Regions from separate parts of the Homo sapiens genome. Here region 1 is linked to region 2. Evidence: fine-mapped expression QTL. A gene starts in region 2. The other region holds a variant in brackets. All regions are shown on one strand. Distances are from middle to middle.

Evidence for each region. PIP is the estimated chance that this variant, and not a neighbour inherited with it, causes the effect. A credible set is the group of variants that fine-mapping cannot tell apart.
Region 1: its variant is the best candidate, but not a certain one, in a credible set for the expression of HSPA9 in whole blood (INTERVAL, PIP 0.56).

What each region holds. Positions count from the first base shown.
Region 1 is chr5:138,480,346-138,492,450 of GRCh38, forward strand. LOC124901078 (a long non-coding RNA gene) reads left to right here and starts at 11,983. Exons shown (of 2, transcript XR_007058953.1): 1 at 11,983-12,105. RefSeq lists enhancers at 10,654-11,347, 11,348-12,040 and a silencer at 11,499-12,105. The variant C/G (reference allele first, on the strand shown) is at 4,713.
Region 2 is chr5:138,570,674-138,582,097 of GRCh38, forward strand. HSPA9 (heat shock protein family A (Hsp70) member 9) reads right to left here and starts at 4,728. Exons shown (of 17, transcript NM_004134.7): 1 at 4,565-4,728; 2 at 3,395-3,453; 3 at 3,090-3,177; 4 at 287-468. The coding sequence starts at 4,645. LOC105379193 (a long non-coding RNA gene) reads left to right here and starts at 405. Exons shown (of 3, transcript XR_001742900.1): 1 at 405-493. RefSeq lists enhancers at 4,309-4,956, 4,473-4,522, 4,763-5,042, 4,957-5,605, 5,183-5,322 and 1 more.

The DNA.
Region 1 (12,105 bases), 90 kb before region 2:
TGTCAACCAGGCTGGAGTGCAGTGGCGTGATCTCAGCTCACTGCAACCTCCGCCTCGCAGGTTCACGCCATTCCCGAGTAGCTGGGACTACAGGCACCCGCCACCACGCCCAGCTAATTTTTTATATTTTTGGTAGAGACGGGGTTTCACTGTGTTAGCCAGGATGGTCTTGATCTCCTGACCTCATGATCCGCCCTCCTCAGCCTCCCAAAGTGCTGGGATTACAGGCATGAGCCACCGTGCCCGGCCTCTTTCTTTTCTTTCTTTTTCTTTTCTCTTTTTTTTTTTTTTTTTGAGACGGAGTTTTGCTCTTGCCCACGCTGGAGTGCAGTGGCGTGATCTCGTCTCACCACAACCTCTGTCTCATGGATTCAAGCAATTCTCCTGCCTCAGCCTCCCGAGTAGCTGGGATTTCAGGCATGCTCCACTACGTCTGGCTAATTTTATATTTTTAGTAGAGACGGGGTTTCTCCATATTGGTCAGGCTGGCCTCGAACTCCCGACCTCAGGTGATCCTTCCTCCTTGGCCTCCCAAAGTGCTGGGATTACAGGTGTGAGCCACCGTGCCCAGACTAACTTTTATTTTCTATACTTTTCTGTGTTTTCCAAATGAGCTGATTTTTGTTGTTGTTGTTGTTTGTTTCTGAGACGGAGTCTTGCTCTGTCGCCCAGGCTAGAGTGCAGTGGCGTGATCTTGGCTCACTACAACCTCCACCTCCTGAGTTAAAGCGATTCTCCTGCCTCAGCCTCCTGAGTAGCTAGTGCTGTGCCACCACGCCTGGCTAATTTTTGTATTTTTAGTAGAGATGGGGTTTCGCCATATTAGCCAGGCTGGTCTTGAACTCCTGACCTCAGGTGATCTGCCCTCCTTGGCCTCCCAAAGTGCTGGGATTACAGGTGTGAGCCACTGTGGCCGGTGAGCAGATGTTTTTATCATTGGAAGAAAATTGTTCTATTTAAGAAAGCAAAAGAAAAAGACTAGATAAGCAAGTAAATATTTTCTAGAATCTGGTTTATTATAAAGGTCCTCTGATGGACTATTTTCTTGCATTGCGGGAGTATGACCCTTTGATAATAAGCTGTTAAAGACTGGTAAAAAATAAAGATGGGTCCAGGTGGAATGGCTGATACCTATAATCCCAGCACTTTGGGAGGCTGAGGCAGAAGGATGGTTTGAGACCAAAAGTTCAAGACCAGCCTGGGCAACATAGAGAGACCCTGTCTCTACAAAAAGTACAAAAAATTAGCTGGGTGTGGTGGCACATGCCTGTAGTCGCAGCTACTAGGGAGGCTGAGGTCAGAGGATCGCCTGAGACCAGGAGTTTGAGGCTGCAGTGAGCTATGATCTTCACTGCACTGCAGCCTGGGCAACTAAGCGAAACCTAGCCTCAAAAGAAAACAAAAGAAAACACGCCTGGCACGGTGGCTGATGCCTGTAATCCCAGCACTTTGGGAGGCCGAGGCGGGTGGATCACTTGAGGTCAGGAGTTCAAGACCAGCCTGGCCAACATGGTGACACCGCATCTCTACTAAAAAAAAAATACAAAAATTAGCCAGGCATGGTGGCAGGTGCCTGTAATCCCAGCTACTCAGGAGACGGAGGCATGAGAATCGCTTGAACCGGGGAGGCGGAGGTTGCAATAAGCTGTGATTACACCACTGCACTCCAGCCTGGGTGACAGAGTGAGACTCTGTCTCAAACAAAACAAAACAAACAAACAAACAAAGATGGGAAAGATTTCCTAGGGACTCAGGCCTCTAGGCTTTTGCTGAGCGGATGCAAGTTGTTTAACATTCCCCGTAAGTGGATGGTCTGTCTGTTAGAGGCTGGCGGGATAGAAGCACCAGACAACTGCTGTTGGCTTCTAAATTTGGGGGCTGTAGGTTTTTTAAAAACCAGAAAGTGTTATTTTATTAGTTCATCAAGCTCCCTCAACTATTTCTTAGAGAACTCGTGAGATCTCGCCCCCATCACTGAATTCTCTTTCCATCTTCATTCCCCATGTACAACTCACACAAAGCACTAGGCTCAAAGCCTTTCTCTTAAATATCTTTCTTTTGCTTATTACTGAATTGGTGTTAGCCAGGTGTTCCTGTTGGTTATTCTTGGGTCAGACTTTGTTTTTATTGTTCTACAATTTCGTAGGCACCCCTTAGAAAGAAGAGCTCAAGTCTGGGTGACTCTCTTGGGGTCATCCTCAGTACTAGTTCATCCAGAGTCTATGTGGCTCCTTTGCTCTATCATGAATAGATCAAAATTTATCCAAGATGTATTATCAAATACCTACTTTATGTCAGGCCCTAAGCACATACAGATAAACAGGATAGAGTCTGGGGCAGCACCACATTGCATGCAGAAAGATTCAGAAAGAAATAATTACCATAGTGTGATATATGAGAGGTGTGTACAGAGCAGGGAGTGACTAATTCTGTCAAGAGGAGAGATGGAGGAATGGGGTGTAGAAGGAAGACCAGGAGTTCACAGGAGGACGTGCGGGCAAGGGAACAGCAAGTGCAAAGCCAGGGAGGTGTGTTCAGGAACCAGCAAATTAATGGTGGGGCGGCAGGAAGTACGGAGGGGAGGGGCAGGGAATGTGGCTGGAAGGGCAGGTTGGGGCCAGATTTGGAAGGCCCTCAGTAACAGTCCAAGGGGTTGTACTTTTCCTGAAGGCAACAGGGACTGAGATGGCATTAGTGTGTTGGCACGCCACTACTTTTGATGGTGTTTCTGGGTGTCTGAAAAGCTACACTGCTTCCTGTCTCCTCAGGAGAGTCCTCTACTTCTGATGTAGCAATAATAACAGTAATTTAGATGGATCACTTCGGACTGTATGCATGCCTTTTAATTTCAGCTTTCAATAAGGTCTGGGATACCTGAAACGCAACTATTCAATCTTTTCTCTTTTTTTCTTTTTTGAGACGGAGTCTCGCTCTGTCGCCCAGGCTGGAGTGCAGAGGTGCGATCTCGGCTCACTGCAAGCTCTGCCTTCCAGGTTCACGCCATTCTCTTGCCTCAGCCTCCCAAGTAGCTGGGACTACAGGCGTCCACCACCACGCCCGGCTAATTTTTTGTATTTTTAGTAAGGACGGGGTTTCACCGTGTTAGCCAGGATGGTCTGGATCTCCTGACCTCGTGATCCCCCACCTTGGCCTCCCAAAGTGCTGGGATTATAGGCGTGAGCCACTGCACCCGGCCCACATATATGTAAATTCTAAAAATAAATTCTAAATATCAATTTTGTGGCTAGATCAAACTTCATAATTTTTATTGTAGAAAATCTTAAATATCCTCAAAAGTAGGGGGAAATGATGTAATAACCTCCCTGTATCTATCAACCAGTTCAACAATGATCATTTCACAGCAGTCTTGTTTCTTCTATAACACCCTCTTCCCTACCCTCACCCCCACACACTGGATTATTTTGAAGCAAATCCCAGACATTATATAATTTCATCTGTAAATACTTCAGTGTATATCTTCATAAGTATTTTTAAGTTCTTTTGCTGGAATCAGAACCCAAAAAAGACCACACTTTGCATTTGGTCGATGTCTTTAAAGTTTCTTTTCAGCCACAATAGTTCCTTTTGCTATCTATTTGTTGAAGAAAACAGGTTATTTGTCTTGAAGAAAACAGGTTATTTGTCCTGAAGAATTTCCCACTTTTTGAATTGTACACATTGCCTTGTTTCCCCCCTTATAATTCTGTTCAATATGTCCTTTTATCCCATCAATTTCACATAAACTGGTTGTTACACCCAGAGGCTGGATCCGACTCGGGTTCACTTTTTAGGTGATGCTATACACTTGGTATTGCAACATAACAAGAAGTACATAATTTTTAGGGTTTTATTTTTTTTCTCTCTCTCTTTAGTTTCCTATATGGGATTTCTAAATGGTGAAATATAATTCACATAACATAAAATTCTCCATTTAAAGTGTACAGGCCGGGCGCGGTGGCTCAAGCCTGTAATCCCAGCACTTTGGGAGGCCTAGGCGGGCAGATCACGAGGTCAGGAGATCGAGACCATCCTGGCTAACACGGTGAAACCCCGTCCTTACTAAAAATACAAAAAATTAGCCGGGCTTGGTGGTGGGCGCCTGTGGTCCCAGCTACTCGGGAGGCTGAGGCAGGAGAATGGTGTGAGCCTGGGAGGCAGAGCTTGCAGTGAGCCGAGACCGCGCCACTGCACTCCAGCCTGGGCGACAGAGTAAGACTCCATCTCAAAAATAAAAAATAAAAAAATAAAAATAAAGTGTACAATTCAATGAATTTTAGTATATTTGTAGTGTTGCACATCCGTTGCCACTAATTCCAGAACATTACAATTATCCCCAAAATAAACCCTGTACCTGTTAGCAGACACTCTCCATTCCTTACCACCCCCTGCCCCCAAATCACTGACAACTACTAATCTACTTTCTGTCTCTACCAGTTTGCCTGTTCTGGATATTTCATATACATAGCATTAAATAATATATGGCCTTTTGTGTCTGGCTCCATTCGCTGAACATAATGTTTTCAAGGTTCATCCATTTTGTAGCATGTCTCAGTACTTCACTCCTCTTTATATCTGAATCATATTCCATTATATGGACACACCACATTTTATTTATCCATTCATCAGTTGATGGACATTTGAATTGTTTCCACTTTTTAGCTATTTGAATAATACTTGTTGCTGTGAACATTATGTACAGGTTTCTGTACAAA[C/G]ATATGTTTTCAATTCTCTTGGTTAGTTCTCTTTTTGTGTGCGTGATGTTAAAATGAATTAATCAGCCAGGTGCCTGTAGTCCCAGCTAATCAAGAGGCTAAGGCAGGAAGATCCTTTGAGCCCAGGAGTTTGAGGCTATAGTGAGCTATGATTGCACCTGTGAATAGCCACTGCACTCCAGCCTAAGCAACATAGGAGACCCTGTCTCTGAAAAAAACCCAGATTGATTGATGGGTCCAAGTATCACTGGCATTACAAAGTTTCTCTATACCTTTCATGCAATGGTTACAGAAATCTCCGATGATCAATGATCCTTATCTAAATCTATTATCTCATTAGGGGTTAAAAGGGTGATTTTATTTATTTTTTGTTTTTCTATTTTTTTGAGATGGAGTTTCGCTCTTGTCACCCAGACTGAGCACAATGACGTGATCTCGGCTCACTGCAACCTCCTCCTCCCAGGTTCAAGCGATTCTCCTGCTTCAGCCTCCTGAGTAGCTGGGACTACAGGTGCACGCCATGATAACCGGCTAATTTTTGTATTTTTGGTAGAGATGGGGTTTCACCATGTTGGCCAGGCTGGTCTTGAACTTCTGACCTCAAGTGATCTGCTCGCCTTGGCCTCCCAATGTGCTGGGTTTACAGGCATGAGTCAATGTACTTGGCCAAAGGGTGATTTTATAATTCTATCATTCCGTTTGCATTTGTTAGCCAGAATTTTTCTAGACTAAATCATAATTGTAAAGAAAGCACGATAAATACTCAAGTCTCTTCTTTCATTTGTCAAATGACAATATTTTGTACTTTCCTGTATGGAACCCCAAAGACATTCTGAATGTCAGCTGGGCGCAGTGGCTGACACATGTAATTCCAGCACTTTGGGAGACTGAGGCGGGCGGATCACGAGGTCAGGAGATCGAGACCATCCTGGCTAACACGGTGAAAACCCATCTCTACTAAAAATACAAAAAATTAGCTGGGCATGGTGGCGAACGCCTGTAGTCCCAGCTACTCGGGAAGCTGAGACAGGAGAATGGCGTGAACCCGGGAGGCGGAGGTTGCAGTGAGCCGAGATCGTGTGACTGCACTCCGGCCTGGGCGACAGAGCGAGATTCCGTCTCAAAAAAAGAAAAAAAAAAAAAAGAAATTCTGAATGTCTACATGGTCAAGGCTCTCCATGGAGTTGCAAATAAAAAATTATGATCCTGGCCTGGTGCGGTGGCTCAAGCTTGTAATCCTAGCACTTTGGGAGGCCGAGGTTGGAGGATCACCTGAGGTCGGAAGTTCAAGACCAGCCTGACCAACATGGAGAAACCCTGTCTCTATCAAAAATACAAAATCAGCCAGACGTGGTGGCGCATGTCTGTTAATGCCAGCTACTCGGGAGGCTGAGGCAGGAGAATTGCTTGAACCCAGGAGGCAGAGGTTGTGGTGAGCCAAGATTGCGCTATTGCACTCCAGCCTGGGCAACAAGAGCGAAACTCCGTCTCAAAAAAAAAAAAAAAAAAAAAAAAGGATTATGATACTGGAGACAGAAAACAAAAATAAATCCAATCTTGACTTGGAAAACTACAGGGTGTCTACTTAATGCCTCAGAGCAATACTGTACTCTATAAAATTCCTCCTAACCTTTCCTTTCTACCCCCTCTCTTTCCCTTCTCTCTTCCCCTTCCTTGTTCTTTATTATATAGATGGATTTAGCCTCTCTGCCTAAGTCCTTCTTTCTCCCAGCCTCTCTAGCTCTCCATCTCCTCCTGTCTCTAACCAGCACCCTCACCCACTCATTTTGATTCTGCATCACAAAAGATGCCGGACTGGGGATGGCTGAGAGCAGACTCTTGGAGTTGGGAGTGGGCATGAATTCTGAGCTGGAAACCTTTTGTGGATGGGTGAGAGGAGAGAAAACAGGGAGAAACACTCAAACTAATGAAGCTTATTTCCATCACATGTATTTTCTGCAATGAGCATGAATCACATATGGTGGAATAAAAAATAAATAAATAAAATGTTTTAAAAATAAGAGATGGTAGGGAAGGAAGTAAGCACTATTCTTTCTCAATTTCCAGTTCCCCTTCTTCTCCATACAGACTGCAGCATCCTTGGCTTTCTGTTCCAGGGCAAGTGAAGTGGAACCTTTCCTCTGACTCAGGATTTAAAGTGTTTCCCACCCCCTCAGGCCCACAGCGTGGGTGGCAGCCTTGGAGTCATGCTCCTGTCACCATGCAGAGGAGCTCTGTGAGCTATGGGAGCCAGGCTGGCTAAAGGCCTTCAGTGATAGATGAGAGGTCTCCCTGATTTTTTTGTTTGTTTGTTTGTTTGTTTTTTTGAGATGGAGTCTCGCTCTGTCACCCAGGCTGGAGTGCAGTGGCGCGATCTCGGCTCACTGCAAGCTCCATCTCCCGGGTTCACGCCATTCTCCTGCCTCAGCCTCCCCAGTAGCTGAGACTACAGGCACTCGCCATCACGCCCGGCTAATTTTTTTTATTTTTAGTAGAGATGGGGTTTCACCATGTTAGCCAGGATGGTCTAGTTCTCCTGACCTCGTGATCCACCCGCCTCGGCCTCCCAAAATGCTAGGATTACAGGCGTGAGCCACCGCGCCCGGCTGAGGTCTCCCTGATTAAAACTGCTGGGCTTGGCTGGGCCCGGTGGCTCATGCCTGTAATGCCAACACTTTGGGAGGCCAAGGCAGGTGGATCACTTGAGGTCAGGAGTTCGAGACTAGCCTGGCCAACATGGTGAAACCCCATCTCTACTAAAAATACAAAGATTAGTGACCATTTGTGTGGTGCAGTTGGTTGGTGTGCTTGCCTCCAACTCTGGAGATGGGCGCCCATTCTGGGGAGTTTCTCTTGCATTTTGGCCAGGCACGGTGGCTCACGCCTATAATCCCAGCACTTTGGGAGGCCAAGGTGGATGGATCACGAGGTCAGGAGTTCAAGACCAACGTGGCCAACATGGTGAAACCCCGTCTCTACTAAAATACAAAAAATTAGCCGAGCATGGTGGTGCGCACCTGTAGTCCCAGCTGCTGGCTAAGGCAGGAGAATCACTTGAACCCCAGAGACAGAGATTGCAGTGAGCCGAGATCACACCACTGCACTCCAGCCTGGCGTGGTGGCACGTGCCTGTATTCCCAGCTACTCAGGAGGCTAAGGCAGAAAAATCACTTGAACCTGGGAGGCGGAGGTTGCAGTGAGTGAAGATGGTACCACTGCACTCCAGCCTGGGCAACAGAGCAAGACGTGGTCTCAAACAAACAAACAAACAAACAAAAAACTGCTGGGCTCTCCAGCCTCTTCTCCAAGAAGCACCTCCTTGGGTCTTCAGGAGATCTCCCGAGGCTGTTCAATGGAGACATCTTGGTCTCTTAGGAAAATTTCAAGGCTTGGGAAGGGTAGTGGAGACCTCTCAAGTCTCCTGCTTCTGGAGTCCGGGTTGGGAGAGAGAGTCCAGTTGACAGCCAGAGTCCCAAGACACAGGGCCCCGTATCACCCATGCCTATCTGTCCACGCCCCATACATGCTCTGGTGGCAAGTGTGAACAAACAAAGTGAACAGCAGCCAAGTTTTAATCTGTGTGTGGAGCACTAGGGAAATGTAGGTGTGGGCAGATTTTTGTGGTCTCAGCCTATCTGAGCAGGAGCCCTAGGGGCGGTGAAGAAGCCTTGGTGAGTCAGGAGACAGCAGGGCAAAAAGGACAAGCACACGTGCTCTGGAGTCACACAGACCCAAATTCTGAGCCCTTGGTCTGCCATTTACATACTTCATGATCACAGGCAAGTTCCCTACTTCTCTGAACCTCAGTTTTCACCTGTAGAAAATGGGAGTAATTCTCATTCTAGTAGGTGTTAAAAAAAATAAGAAATTTAAAATAATTAAAGTTTTAAAAAAAAGCAAAATAAAATGGCCATAATGGTTTCATCTCATTGGTTTATGCGGGTTAAATGAGGCAATGTCTACAGAGTGCTGGGCTGGCTCTCTTTTTTTAAGAGATAGAGTCTCACTCTGTCACCCAGGCTGGAGTGCAGTGGCGCAATCTCGGCTCACCGAAGCCTCGACCTCCCAGGCTCAAGCAATCCTCCCCTACTTCAGCCTCCTGAGTAGCTGGGACTATAGGCAGGCACTACCACGCCTGGCTAATTTTTGTATTTTTGGTAGCGAGGGGGTCTCGCCATGTTGCCCAAGCTGGCCAAATCTCTCATAAATTGGGAGTTGTTACTGAGGAGTCCATATGCCTCAATTTCCTTATCTCTAAAACAGAGATAACAGTAGGATTACCTGAGGGGGGATTAAATGAGATAATAAATGAAGAGTGGTTGACACACTGTGGGTAAATGTTAACTATTAACACTATCAACACCTTCCCTGTTTTGCTCAAGGTCAAAACCCGATAGTTCCCTCCTCTTCTTGCTTTCTCCCTGACCCTGTTCCATTTGCCAGGAAATGACCCTTCTTATCTTTTTGGACAGAAGAATGCACTCAGAAGAGAGCACGTGGGAGAGCAGGAGGAGATCCAGGGGTCTCTGTCCTTGCTGAGACCTGCGTCTCCCCTCCCACCGCACTCAGACCCAGGGCTTTCCACGAGCATCTCTCTTGGACAAAGCTCTGCCCAAGGGTTCATTTTAGAGACTTCTGTAACTCAAGAGGATCAGTATTAATCTTCCCCACCTACAAGATGAGTGGCAGCCCAAAGCCAAGTGCTTCCCAGCCAGGGAGAGAAAGACATGGAAGTTCCCTTCTTTTCTGTGTCTCTCCCCGCCTCCTTTTTGCGGGGGAGCTGAATGTGCTCCTCTGGAGGGACTGAGGGAAGCCAGGGCTGGCTCAAAAGTGATTTTGCCTAGATGAAGCTGGCAGCTGGGAACCACTTTCCCTCCGCTTGCCCTCTGCCGGGGAAACTCCATGACGGAGACAAGGCAGCTGGCAGGGAGAAGCCTCTGGATTGGGGCTGCTGGGGCTGCTGCAGTGCCAGGCAGGGCCACACAGGAACACATGGGCCCAGAGGCAGATGCTGATGCCACCTTTCCTTGCTGAGGACTCCCTAGAAAGGCAGTGCCTTGGAGCCTGCGGGGAAGACTATCTTTACCTGTAGCACAGAAGCAAATATAAAGGAACACAGAACTAGTGGAAAAGGTACGGGGTTGGGCTCTGAAGAATGGGGTCCCAGCCCTGGTGCTGCCACTCCACGGCCGTGTGATTTTTGGTCAAGGTGCTTAAGATCTTTCCCCAAATTCTAGTTTCCCTATTTGCAAAATGAATGTTGTAATACGTCCCTCATAGGAACTGTGCAGAGAATTAGTTGAAATGATGTATGGGAAGCTGGGACACGGGAGATGGCTAATAAATATTCATTTATTCCACAGAGGAATCGAAGAGAAAGGAAATCGCTGGATTTTGGAGGCTTTATGATTTATCAGCTTATTCTATGGAATTAAGCCCTGGGCATCATGCTATTTGTCAGGGGCCTGGTTCTAGCGAAGATATGTGTTTATCTTTCACTATGAGATCCCAAGAGTCTCCCGAAATATTCTGGGCCTCAGAACTGGTTTCTCTGGGTGGCAGAGTATCAGAACACAGGGCAGAAGGAACCTGTTCCTCAGAGATCCAATCGACATCTCCCTTAAGCCTTTTGCTGCCCTCCACGAACCCATCCTTTTGTGCTGCCAGCTCCATGTCCCCATTCCGGGGGAGGCCAGAATGACACATCTACATGTCACCCCGTAGTCTACAATGTCGGGAAGGAGCTGTGTCCCTGCTGGAATTGAAAAACATCCTTGAGGGCTGCAACTTTTACAGGGAAAGTTACCATGCCAACGACAGCCTCCTTGCCTGACAGGGATGAAAGGAAACAAGGCTGTGGGTGACATGCATCTATTGTGTGTCCACAAACTTGCCTGGAATCTATCAGGGACTGCGGACTGCTGCTCAGCAGGATGGAACAGGAGGATTCAGGTTAGATTTCAGTGGGACTCCGGGATGGGCAGGACTGATGAGGGCAGGGCAGGGCCAGCAAGCGAGGATTGGGAAATGCTTCTCTGAGATTGATACCCATCTCTTGGTGAAATGTGTGGGTGTGGTACTGACAGCAGGCGTGGGAGGGGACGGTGTCCTAGATACCAGTTTCTGGCTGTGATGGGAACCTCGACTTCCCCCAGGTTCTTTCTGCCTTCACAGGATGGTCTAGGAGGTTACCTATGCTCTGGGTTAGATAGAAGAGGGCATGGCAGGTCACTGGGGCAGTGGGGCCACAGGCATGCCTATGGAGAAGGCCCAGTCTTGGCGAGGAGGCCCCAAGATGCCTAAGGAGGAGCGTCTCCTTCAAGGGGCAGGGCTTCCAGGGAGAATGGCCCCCACTCCCGAACAGGGAAAGGGCACAGAGGACTGAGGAGCTGGCACTGCCGAAGCACCTACGCCACGTCAGGCACTTGACACAGCCCCCATTTCATTTAATTATCTCCACAAACCTGCACAGCAGGAACTCTCACTCCCATTTCACGGAGGAGATGAGGACACAGGCTCAGGAGAAGGTGAGTACCCGTCCCAGCATCACCCGGCTGGCAAGGGGAGACGCTGGGGCTGGAACCTCGCTGTCTGAACTGGAAAGGAAAACTCCACATTCAGGGTGCCCTATTTTCTTCTGGAAAGATCTCTCCCGAAGCCGTCCGCTCCTCATTCTGCCCTTCGTACAGGCTTCCCGGGCCTGAGACGGCTGGGAAGAGGCTAAAGGGGCACGACCAGCCGGCGTCTGGGAAACCGCTCCTGCAGCCTGCAACTGCGAGGGCCCGGGGCCGCCACGCGGGCCCCCCGGCAGCCTCTCGTTTCACCCCAGCCTCCGGAGAGGGCCCGAGGCTCAGAGACGAAGGCACTGCACCCAAGGCCACAGATCGTGCATGGCTTTGCTGGAATTCCCACCGGGCCCGCAGGCGTCGAGGCCGCGTAGAACCCCGGAGCCCCTGCGCCCCTGCGCCCCGCCCGCGGCTGCGAGGCTCGGTGCCCGCAGAGGCTCCGGCGGAAACGGCTCCATCCCGGGCGGGCTCCCGCCCCCGGCCCGCCCCCGTCCGCCCCGCGCCATGTATGGCGCTTCCTCCCCGAGCCCTACAAGGCGCTTCCTCCCGGCCCCAGGCCCATACAAGGCGCTTCCTTCCCGGCGCGGCTGGCTGGCGGCCCGCGGGCTGGGAGCCCGGTCCGCTGGGCCCGCCCAACCTCGGAGCCCGCGGCCAGCGGACCTGCTGCCAAGGAGGGGGCGGCAGCGGCGGGAGGGACGGGAACGCGGGGCCTGGCCCGGCGCGGGAGGCGCGGGACGGGCCGACTTGGGGGTCCCGCTGGTCCCCGCTGGTTTCGTATTTTGCCTCGCTTTTCTCCCCTAGCCCGGAGCACAGCACGCCCTGCCGGA
Region 2 (11,424 bases):
AGGGTTTCACCATGTTGGCCAGGCTGGTCTTGAACTCCTGACTTCAGGTGATCCACCCACCTCGGCCTCCCAAAGTGCTAGGATTACAGGTGTGAGCCACTGCACTGGCCAAAAATGAATTTTTTAAAGGGATTACCCTTTTGGCAGTGGTACAGATTTCCCCTAGGGACAATAAGTAAAATTACTAAAGTAAGGTGCTCCAGGGATCCTCATCAACATGCTGAGGCTCTTCTGTGTGGCCCTTGCAAATAACTGCTTTTTGCAAAAAACTTTTGCTGTTACTCACATGTCTTTCTGTACTTCAGGATCATCATATCGCCGGCCAATGAGACGCTTGGTAGCATAAAATGTATTGTTTGGGTTGGTGACAGCCTGTCGCTTGGCCGGCATTCCAACAAGTCGCTCACCATCTGCTGTAAAGGCCACAACTGAAGGGGTGGTTCTGGCACCTTCGGCATTCTCCAGCACCTAAACTCCCAAAATGTGATAGAGAGTAAGTTTGTAGTTATCACTGGTATGTTTTTTGAGATGGAGTCTCACTCTGTCGCTAAGGCTGGAGTACAATGGCACAATCTTGGCTCACTGCAACCTCCGCATCCTGGGTTCAAGCGATTCTTCTGTCTCAGCCTCCCTAGTAGCTGGTACTATAGGCGTGCACCACCACACCAAGCTAATTTTTCGGCATTTTTTAGTAGAGACGGGGGTTTCACCATTTTGGCCAGGCTGGTCTCGAACTCCTGACCTCAGGTGATCTGCCCGCCTCAGCCTCCCGAAGTGTTGCGATACAGGCATGAGCCAATACGCCCAGCCTATTACTGGTATGTTTGCAGCAATCATTTAAGACACAGAAACAGCTCCCAAATTGCGAAACAAATGCACATCAACAATACTACCGGGCATGCTTTACTGCTGATAGTTAATGAACAGTAGATATTTAGTTAAGGTATCTTTAGCCCTTTACTTTCAAACTACTATTTTTTTTTTTTTTTTGAGAGGGAGTCTCGCTCTTGTCACCCAGACTGGAGTGCAGTGGCGCGATCTCGGCTCACTGCAAACTCCCTGTCCTGGGTTCAATTCTCCTACTTCAGCCTCCTGAGTAGCTGGGATTACAGGTGCCTGCCACCACACCCAACTAATTTTGTGTGTGTGTGTGTGTGTGTGTACTTTTAGTAGAGATGGGGTTTTGCCAAGTTGGCCAGGCTGGTCTCGAACTCCTGACCTCAGGCGATCCGCCCACCTTGGCCTCCCAAAATGCTGGGATTACAGGCTTGAGGCACTGCGCCTGGCTTTTTTTTTTTTTTTTGAGACAGAGTCTCACTGTCACCTAGGCTGGAGTGCAGTGGCACTGTCACGGCTCACTGCAGCATTGACCTGCCAGCCTCAGCTGATCCTCCCACCTTAGCCTCCAGAGTAGCTGGGACTACAGGGGCACACCACTATGCCCGGCTAATTTTTTGTAGAGACAGTGTTTTGCTATGTTGCCTAGGGTGATCTTCAACTCCCACACTCAAGTGGCCTCCCCAAGTGTTGGGATTACAGGCATGACCCACCAGGCCTGGCCCTGATTTACATTTTAAAAACTGCTTTGGTTGCTTAAGACTCTTGTCAGGTGAACCTTTGTAGTGCTGATAATTGTATGTATCTAACTTCCCAGAAAAGGATTTAAATGTGGTATAGAGGTAGGACTACTAATTTACTATTAAGAGGGGTGGGAATGGCTTGCACTGTTTGGTTACTCTGGTAACCACCAAAGTGCTGCATTTTCTAAATTGAAACAAAGTTGGGTGTGCAGAGACAGACTAGAAGTGGAGCTTCATCTCTGAAGTAATGCATGTTGTTCATTGGAGCAGGCTATTTCTTTTGAAGCCTCCTTACTCTGTACATGCAACCTTTATTCCCACCGGGTTCTTAGCAAGATTTAGAACACCTGGAATTCTTGACTCTTGCTTCTTCCATTCATGGCCTCTTTTGCTTTCATACTTCCTTTCCCCCCAATCTCCTCTTCTGAAATAACCTGAACTGTCTATGGTCTTCTTATCCCACTTGTTTGGCACCAAGAGATTATTCCTTCTCTTGGCCCTAATTTGGGCTTCTTGGCATTTTTCCTATATGCCTGATATCTGTGGCCAACCCCCCAAAAAACTTAGAAGTAGATATAATTCTCCATGTGGAAGTAAAGATTCTTGTCCCAACATTGGGTATGAAAAACCTGATCTATAGTCTCTTCTTTTTTTTTTTTTGAGACAAAGTCTCGCTCTGTCACCCAGGCTGGAGTACAGTGATGTGATCTTGGCTCACTGCAACCTCCACCTCCTGGGTTCAAGCGATTCTCCTGCCTCAGCCTCCCGAGTAGCGGGGACTACAGGTGTGTGCCACTACGCCCAGCTAATTTTTGTATTTTTAGTAGAGACAGGTTTCACCATGTTGGCCAGAATGGTCTCGATCTCTTGACCTTGTGATCCACCCGCCTTGGCCTCCCAAAGTGCTAGGATTTCAGGTGTGAGCCACTGTACCCGGCCAATTTTTTGCATTTTTAGTAGAGACGGGGTTTCACCATTTTGGCCGGGCTGGTCTTGAACTTGGGACCTCAGGTAATCCACCCCCCTTGGCCTCCCAAAGTGCTGGGACTGCAGGCGTGAGCCATTATGCCCGGTCAGCCCTGATCTATAGTTATGTTTTTGCTGTTTTAGTTGGAAGTACTTCGAGGCCAGGCTTAGTGGTTCACATCTGTAATCCCAGCACTTTGGAGGCCAACGTGGGCGGATCACTTGAGCTCAAGACCAGCCTGGCCAACACAGTGGAACTGTCTCTACTGAAAATACAAAAAATTAGCCAGGAATGGTGGTTCATGCCTGTAATCCCAGCTATGTGGCCAAGGCAGGAGAACTGTTTGAACCCAGGAGGCAGAGGTTGCAGTGAGCGGAGACCGTGCCACTGCACTCCACCATGGGCTATAGAGACTGTCTCCAAAAAAAAAAAAAAAAAAAAAAAAAAAGCGCAAATCAGGTTCTCAAATTCCTTAACTAAGGAAAAGAGCACAGAATTCTGGACAGATTCTGGATAAGGTACTAGTTATCAATCATGCTCACCTTTGCTTGTTTACCTTCCATAACTGCCACGCAGGAGTTGGTAGTACCCAAATCAATACCAACAACTGCTCCCTTGATTGCTTCTGATCTGTAAGACATTTAGAACAGTGTCACAGCTATTGTTATCTTGATAGACCAAAGTCACTGGAAGATAATATTTAATTGGAAAATTAACAGTGGTATACTACATAATCTCTAAATAAATACAGATAAATAATTACAGAGAAGAATAATCACAAATGTAGAAAACACTGCTTTGAAGTTTAATATGTATTCCCTCTCAAAGGAAATGATATTATACTTACGCATAATCCCGCCTTGAAACAAGTCTAAAAGCCTCATGACTAAGGCCATTCCAGCTATCCTAAAAAAGAAAAAACTGACTCAGTCACCAACCAGTGTGTATCCTGGGAGGAAAAAGAGAAAACTTGGGCTCACTTAGTATATAAAATACATTAAGCTACTAAAACAGTAAATATTAAAGTTTCCCAAATAAGTAAGACGAAAAAAGGTAAATAAAAGATGGCCTTAGAATCACATTACAGTAGGATTTCTCAACCGTGGCGCTATTAATTTTGGGCGAAATTTTTGTGGTGGGGGCTGTTCTGTGCATTGTAGGATATACAGCAGCATCCCTGGCCTCGACACCCTAGAAACCAATAAGCACCCCAGTAAGTAAGTGACAACCTAAAATATCCACAGACATTGCCAGATGTCCCCTGGGGGAAAACACTTCCCCTTACCTTGCCGTGCAATTAGTTTAAAAGAACTAGAGTTACTAAGGGTCTTTGAAAGAAAAAAGAAAAGTAGTGGCGTTTCACTAGGATAAAAGACCTTTATTACAACTTAACCTCAGGCTCCTTCCAAGCCTTCCTTAATGCCCACATACAATTCCTGTTCTCTAAAGCATTTGTCTTTTATTTTAGAAAACAAGTAACCACTCCATAGCCTTTTCTCCGCCCCACGATCTGCTTTTTTTTCTGAAGTAACAAACGAGTACAATCTTACACCACAGATTTTGAGAAAATGTTGCTAAGCACGAAAACTGGAGTTCCGACTCAGAGCTTTCTTATTTTATTTCACCGTATCAACGGGATCCTTACACACTCTGTATTCTGTAGAGGAGCCAAAAATAAAACTGAAAATAGTGGCTTTCCCAATAGACTGCATCCCTCACCCCCAAGGCCAAACCTTTCCATTCAGCCACAGAACAGGCCATGAGGACCACTACCTGGTAATTTTGAAATGACACTCTAGATCGCGAGGGGTGTGACTCAGCAGGGCCCAAGCCGGAGGCAAAACCTTGGGCAAAATCTTGACCCGGCAGCGCTAACTATGGAAGGCCCGTTACCTTCCTTCCCGCCTGACCTATACTGGAGAATTCAAACCCTAAAGGGCGCGCGGCCTGCCGCAGCGAAGCCCGAGGCCCAAGGCCCGAGGCCGTGACCCCATTCGGGAAGGTCCCAGTTCCTCACCTGGTGGCGGGCGGCCGTAGGGCCCCGGGAGGCTGCGGCGCCCACGAGACGGGCTGCTGCAGCTCGGCTGGCACTTATCATGGCGGATAAATGGAGGAGTACGAGGCAGCAAACAAGCGCTCCGACGGCAAAGAGCTGCGCGATGCGGTGGCGGCAGCGCTTCTGGAAACCTCCAACCACGTGGGGTGAGGGGCGGGGGTTGGTCACTGCGGCCCAGAGGCCCGCTCTTCCGCTGAGGCGCCGCCCGCGCCGCCTGACCAGAGGATACTCGACTGCCGCTCCCGGAGCCAGGGCGTACAGGTAATATGCTCCGCAGCATGATGGTTGGAGAAAGCCTGCCCTCCTGTCCCGGCTGCGGCGGCTCTGAGCTCAGAAAGAGTCCAGGGGAGGAAGAGGGATATGAAGGCCGTATCTCGGACAGCCCCGGTCCTCGGCGACAGGAAAGACTCAAGGTCACACGGGATAAATTGCGAACCGATTACAGTCTTCTTGCGTCAGTTGCGCGGGAGGAGGAGCCTGTTGGCGCAACAGACATCCAGCTAAGAACCTAGAGCGCATGTGCGCAAGGAGTGGCGGAAAACATGGGTGGAGACTAACTGCGGCGCTCACTGGGTGCCCGAGTGCACGCCAGCGTTCCCTGGGGCGAGCCCGGGCGCGTGCACACCCCCCGGGCGTGGACGTGTTCCCAGCTCCCGCTCCTGGAGGACGGCGCCATCTTGTCTTGTGGCTTTGTGAAGTGAGGACGTCAGTACTTTTGTTGTTTGGTCCCGCCCGTTGTTCACAACTTGAAAGACACTTGGATATGCAGACAGACGTTAAACAATTTCGTGTTGCGTTTTATCACAGGGGTCTTGGGTTTCCAACTACGAAGCGTTTGATTCACACAGAACATTAGGCCAATTAGCCTGCACAAAGGGAAAAAAAAATAGCTGAGCTTGGCCGGGCGCTCACGCCTGTAATCCCAGCACTTTTGGGAGGCCGAAGCGAGCGGATCGCGAGGTTAGGAGATCGAGACCATCCTGGCTAACACGGTGAAACCCCGTCTCTACTGAAAATACGAAAAAGTAGCCGGGCGTGGTGGCAGGCGCTTGTAGTCCCAGCTACTCGGGAGGCTGAGGCAGGAGAACGGCGTGAACCCGGGAGGCGGAGCTTGCAGTGGGCCGAGATCGCGCCACTGCACTCCAGCCTGGGCGACAGAGCGAGACTCCGTCTCAAGAAAAAAAAGAAAAATAGCTGAGCTTCAGGCTCTTCCTCTCCCCACTGTGCTGGGCCTGACTTGAGACTCCTCTGGCCCTTTTTAAACCTTGTGCTGGTGGCAGGATGTCAACTACTTCACTACCCTGTGACCAGTTTTTAGGTTTTTGTTTTTTTTTTTGAGGCAGTCTTTGTCGCCAGGCTTGAGTGCAGTGGCGCCATCTCGGCTCACTGCAACCTCTGACTCCCTGGTTCAAGCTATTCTCCTGCCTCAGCCTCCCAAGTAGATGGGATTACAGGCGCGCGCCACCACGCCCAGCTAATTTTTATATTTTTGGTAGACACCGGGTTTCACCATGTTGGCCAGGATGGTCTCGATCTCCTGACCTCGTGATCTGCCTGCCTCGGCCTCCCAAAGTGCTGGGATTACAGGCGTGAGCCACCGCGCCCAACCCAGTTTTAGATTTTTAAGAAGAGGAATTAATTGATTCAACAGATATGTTTTGGCATGCCTACCGTGTGTCAGTCACTCTCCCAGGTGGTAGGAATACAGCGAAAGCAAAACACGAACGAATGGCTGATGACAGATTGAACTTGATTTTGGAGATGAAGCAATTTGTCCTGGAAGCCCGCTTTCAAAAAAAGAGAAATGTTTCAGACCCCCTATCTCTTCAGGAAGATCTGTATTATTAAGTAGTCACCCCTGGGTGAGGAACTGTGAAGGAAATGTTGGGGAAAGTTGGGGAGGGAAAGAAGCTAACTGAAGAGTTTACATTCTGAGGAGGATGGCAGTGGGAGTAAGAAAATAAACAAAAGTCTAACGTAACATGGGTTATAGATTATATAGATTCTAAAAGTTTTTAAAAAGCCTCCCACACACTCTTAACTGTCAGCTATTACTATATTATCCTCACTAGTTACTTAACACTTCATTTCTCTTGTTTTTAGTTCTCTCAGAAGGCAGGGGTGGCCAGGCGGTGGCTCACGCCTGTAATCCCAGCACTTTGGGAGGCCGAGGTGGGAGGATCACTTGAACCCAGGAGTTCGAGATCAGCCTGAGCGACAGAGTGAGACTCCATCTTTAGCCTCTGTCGCCCAGGCTGCAGTGTAGTGGTGCAGTCTCAGCTTACTGCAGCCTCCACCTCTCTGGGCTCAGATGATTCCAGTGCCGCCTCAGCGCCCCCCTCCCCCGAGTAGCTGGGATTACAGACATGCGGCACTACGCCTGGCTAATTTTTGTATTTTTCGTAGAGACGGGGTTTCGCCTTGTTGCCCAGGCTGGTCTCCAACTCCTGAACTCAAGGGATCCGCCCGCCTCGGCATCCCAAATGCTGGAATTACAGGCGTGAGCCACTGCGGCCGGCCAATTTTTTTTTTTTTTTTTTTTAAATTGGCTGGGCATGGTAGCAAGCACCTGTAGTCCCACCTACTTGGGAGGCTGGAGTGGGAGGATCACTTGAGTTCAGGAATTTGAGAACAGCCTGGGCAACATGGCAAAACCCCATTTCTACAAAAAATTAGCCGGGCATGGTGGTGCACCTGTAGTCCCAGCTACCAGCTACTCGGGAGGCTGAGGTGGAAGAATCACCTGAGCCAAGAGAGGTCGAGGCTGCAGTGAGTCGTGATTATGATTGTGCCATTTCACTCCAGTCTGGGTGACACAGCGAGACATTAAAAAAAACAAAAAACAAAAAAACAGAAAGAAAGGAGAAAGGAAGGAAGGAGGGAGGGAAGGAGGGAAAGAAGGAAGGAGAAAAGGAAATAAGGAAAGGAAGGAAAGAGAAAGAGAGAAAAGAAAGATGCGGCCGGGCGTGGTGGCTCACGCCTGTAATCCCAGCACTTTGGGATGCTGAGGCGGGTGGATCACCTGATGTCAGGAGTCCGAGACCAGCCTGGCTAACATGGTGAAATCCTCGTCTCTACTAAAAATACGAAAATTAACCAGGCGTGGTAGTGGGCACCTGTAACCCCAGCTACTCGGGAGGCTGAGGCAGGAGAATTGCCTGAACCCAGGAGGCGGAGGTTGCAGTGAGTGGAGATTGCACCACTGCACTCCAGGTGACAGAGCCAGACTCCGCCCCCCCCCCCCCCCAAAAAAAAAAGAGAGAGAAAGGAAGAAAAATGAGAAGGCAGGCTTTCTTAAAGGCTATCCAAACAGGCTCATGATTCCTGTTTGTAGAGATTTAGATTCTAAAACAATATACCGATGCAAAGAAGACAGAGGAGTGACAAATAATATTGAACATTGAAATGCAATAAAAAACATTATGTTCTTACGTTGTACATGACGGGGCGGAGAAGGGCAGGTGGAAATAATTGGAGAAACTGCATACTTCTCACTTCTCTGTTGTATTAACTGGTTCTCCTAAGAGTTTTTCTTTTCTTCTTCTTTTTTTTTTTTTTTTTTTGTATTTTTAGTACAGATGGGGTTTCACCATATTGGCCAGGCTGGTCTCGAACTCCTGACCTCAAGAGATCCGCCTTCCTCGGCCTCCCAAAATACTGGGATTATGGGCGTGAGCCACCGCGCCGGCCGAGAGTTCGCTTTCCTTTTTCTTGCTCTATACGTTAAAAAGCCACGAAGTGTTAATCAAAAGAATCCTGGAATTAGGCCGGGCGCGGTGGCTTACGCCTGTAATCTCAGCACTTTGGGAGGCCGAGGCGGGTGGATCACGAGGTCAGGAGATCGAGACCACGGTGAAACCCCGTCTCTACTAAAAATACAAAAAATTAGCCTTGCGCGGTGGCGGGCACATGTAGTCCCAGCTACTCGGGAGGCTGAGGCAGGAGAATGGCGTGAACCCGGGAGGCGGAGCTTGCAGTGAGCCGAAATCCAGCCACTGCACTCCAGCCTGGGCGACAGAGCAAGACTCCGTCTAAAAAAAAAAAAAAAAAAGAATCCTGGAATCAAATGTTGTTATCTAAGGGTGTAGGAAACTACGATCCTATGGGTACATCCAGTGTGTTTGCTGTTTCTGGTGGTTTCTCAGGCGCCTTGCAAATACTCTCCACGACCACAAGGGGGATGTGGTAGCGCTAGATATTCAAAGCACAAGCTTTATCATATCTTCAGCGTGAAGGACAGGCTACTGGACTGCTTTGCAAATTAACATGGGCTACAGCCTGAAGGCTCAAGGAAATGAACCTGAATCTAAAAACATAAAGGTTCAGATGAGCAAGAATGGACAGATCCGTAGCTAAATGGTATAATTCTTCTACAGCACAGTGCTGTATTTCATTTCTGTTGTCATCTCAGTGCAAAATTGGGAAATGGAAGGAGCTAATGCATAATCTGCATGCAGATAAATGTTTACCAAACAGAGCAGGCGGCTGTCCAATACCTGTGTATGCCATACATATATATTATTCAGGAAATAATTATATATGTATAATTATTTTTTCTTTTATAGAGATAGGGTCTTGCTGTGTTGCCTAGGCTGGTCTCAAACTTCTGGCCTCAAGCAGTCCTCCTGGCTCAGCCTCCCAGAGTGCTGAGATTACAGGCGTGAGCTACAATGCCTGGCCTATATTTTTAATAATATTCTAACTGGCATGATTGTTACTTTAGCATATTTGAAGACAGGTAACTAGTTTCAACTTTTAAGTATTTAAATAACTCATTCATTAATAGGAATTGTCATTAGAATAGTAATCACCAATAGTTGTTGAGCGTTCATTTTAAGTGCCTTACAAATGCTTTATATACATTATTTACTGACATGTTCACAACAATAGTCTCAAGTAAATATTATTGGTATTACCATTTTGCAGATGTGGAAACTGAGGCCTAGAGTGGTTACATAGCAATTGAATGGTGAAACTAGAATTTGAAGCCAAACTCTCTTAACTCCAGAACCTGCACTACTAAACACTAGGCTCTGCTGTCTAATAACCAAGCTAGGTCTTATCTTTTACCTCTACTTTCACATATCCAGAAGGTGCGTTTTATAATACTGGCCTAATACATTATTAATAGCAGTTATTTTAGGCAGCAGAATTAAAAAGTTAGAAATACTTTAACCTTTTTTAGAATTATTTAGGTTCCAGGACAACTATAAAGTTCAATCTGTATTATAACTCATAGGATCAAGTTTATATTTTTAAAGTAAAGTCTCTTTAAACTGGTGACTCAGAAGACATTTTATTCAGTTTCCCCAGAGATGAATAGCATGCTGTGGCACTTTCCATCTTCAGGAAATAAAAATGTGGCATACTGCAGGGATTTGTCACCTTTGTTCTCCTTGGAATTTTTCATGTACCTTTGGCAGATTTCAGGAGACAGTTCCCACTTTTCTCTTTTGGCATTAGCTATACTCTATTGGAGTGCATTACACAGTGTCGCTCCACTCAAGTCTGGTTCAACAGAGCTTGCCCCAGCAAAGTGTAGGAAGAATTATGGCAGGTGATGTCCCTGGCCCCAGAAGTGGTGACAATTAGCAAGTTTCATTCTATGGTGAATGCCTAGTAACCCACCAACCTGCCCTCTTTCTGTTAGGAGAAAAGAGAAATACAGGATGACCCTAAAAGAAAAGTAAGGCAGCAATAAATCAAAATAAGATGTCACTTTGATTAGATAGGACATTTACATTCCAGTGACAATGTAGTCTCATTGCTCAAGGTAGAAAGCAGTCAGTTATGCTCACTCTGGATTTTCAATCAGGTTTGGAAAATAGTTGGCTATTGGATAGGCCAAGGCCTTGTGCAAGAAGTTCCTACTGGGAGTGGGGAGGGCTGACAAAACAAGAGATTTGCTCCTCATGAAGATCTATTTAATATTTAATTCTTAAAGATGTAGGAGCCTTTTCTGGATTTTTTAGTTTAGAGGGCCAAGTTTGTAATTTATTCTTGACCAGCATGATATAGTGTGAAAGGAACCCTGAACTAGCCGTTAAGCCTGAACTTGGGTTCTAGAAACCTGGAAAGAACCTTAGATAAAGAACAGAGAGAATCAGTGAATTGCCCAAGGTCACACAGACTGTTCCAGCTTCTGCTCTACAGCCTCCTTTTTTAACTTGCTATGCTTTTTAGAAATAACCCACATGACTTCAGGTTAAATGTTTAGTCAGTCCAGGACCTTTTTCAAATGCTTACAGACAATTCTGGCTCATCACCCTCTTCCTCCTATCCTGTCCTCACCCTTTCAGGCACATGATTAGTGAAATTACGTCAGTTGCCTTTTCAGTTCGCTTAGATTATATGCTCTCTCTATGCGAGGAGCTGTTGGTTTCTGCTATAGACTGAATGTGTGTGTCCCCCAAAATTTATGTGTTGAATCCCTAATTCCCAATATGATTATATTTGGAAATGGGCCTTTGGGAGGTGATTAAATCATGAAGATGGGCCCTCATGATGGAATTAGTGCCTTTATTTATTTATTTATTTATTTATTTATTGAGTCAGAGTCTCACTCTGTCACCCAGGCTGGAGTGCAGTGGCGATCGCAGCTCACTGCAAGCTCCGCCTCCCGGGTTCATGCCATTTTCCTGCCTCAGCCTCCCGAGTAACTGGGACTACAGGTGCCTGCCACCACGCCCGGCTAATTTTTTGTATTTTTAGTAGAGACGGGGTTTCACCATGTTAGCCAGGATGGTCTCTATCTCCTGACCTCGTGATCCACCCGCCTCAGCCTCCCAAAGTGCTGGGATTACAGGCGTGAGCCACTGCGC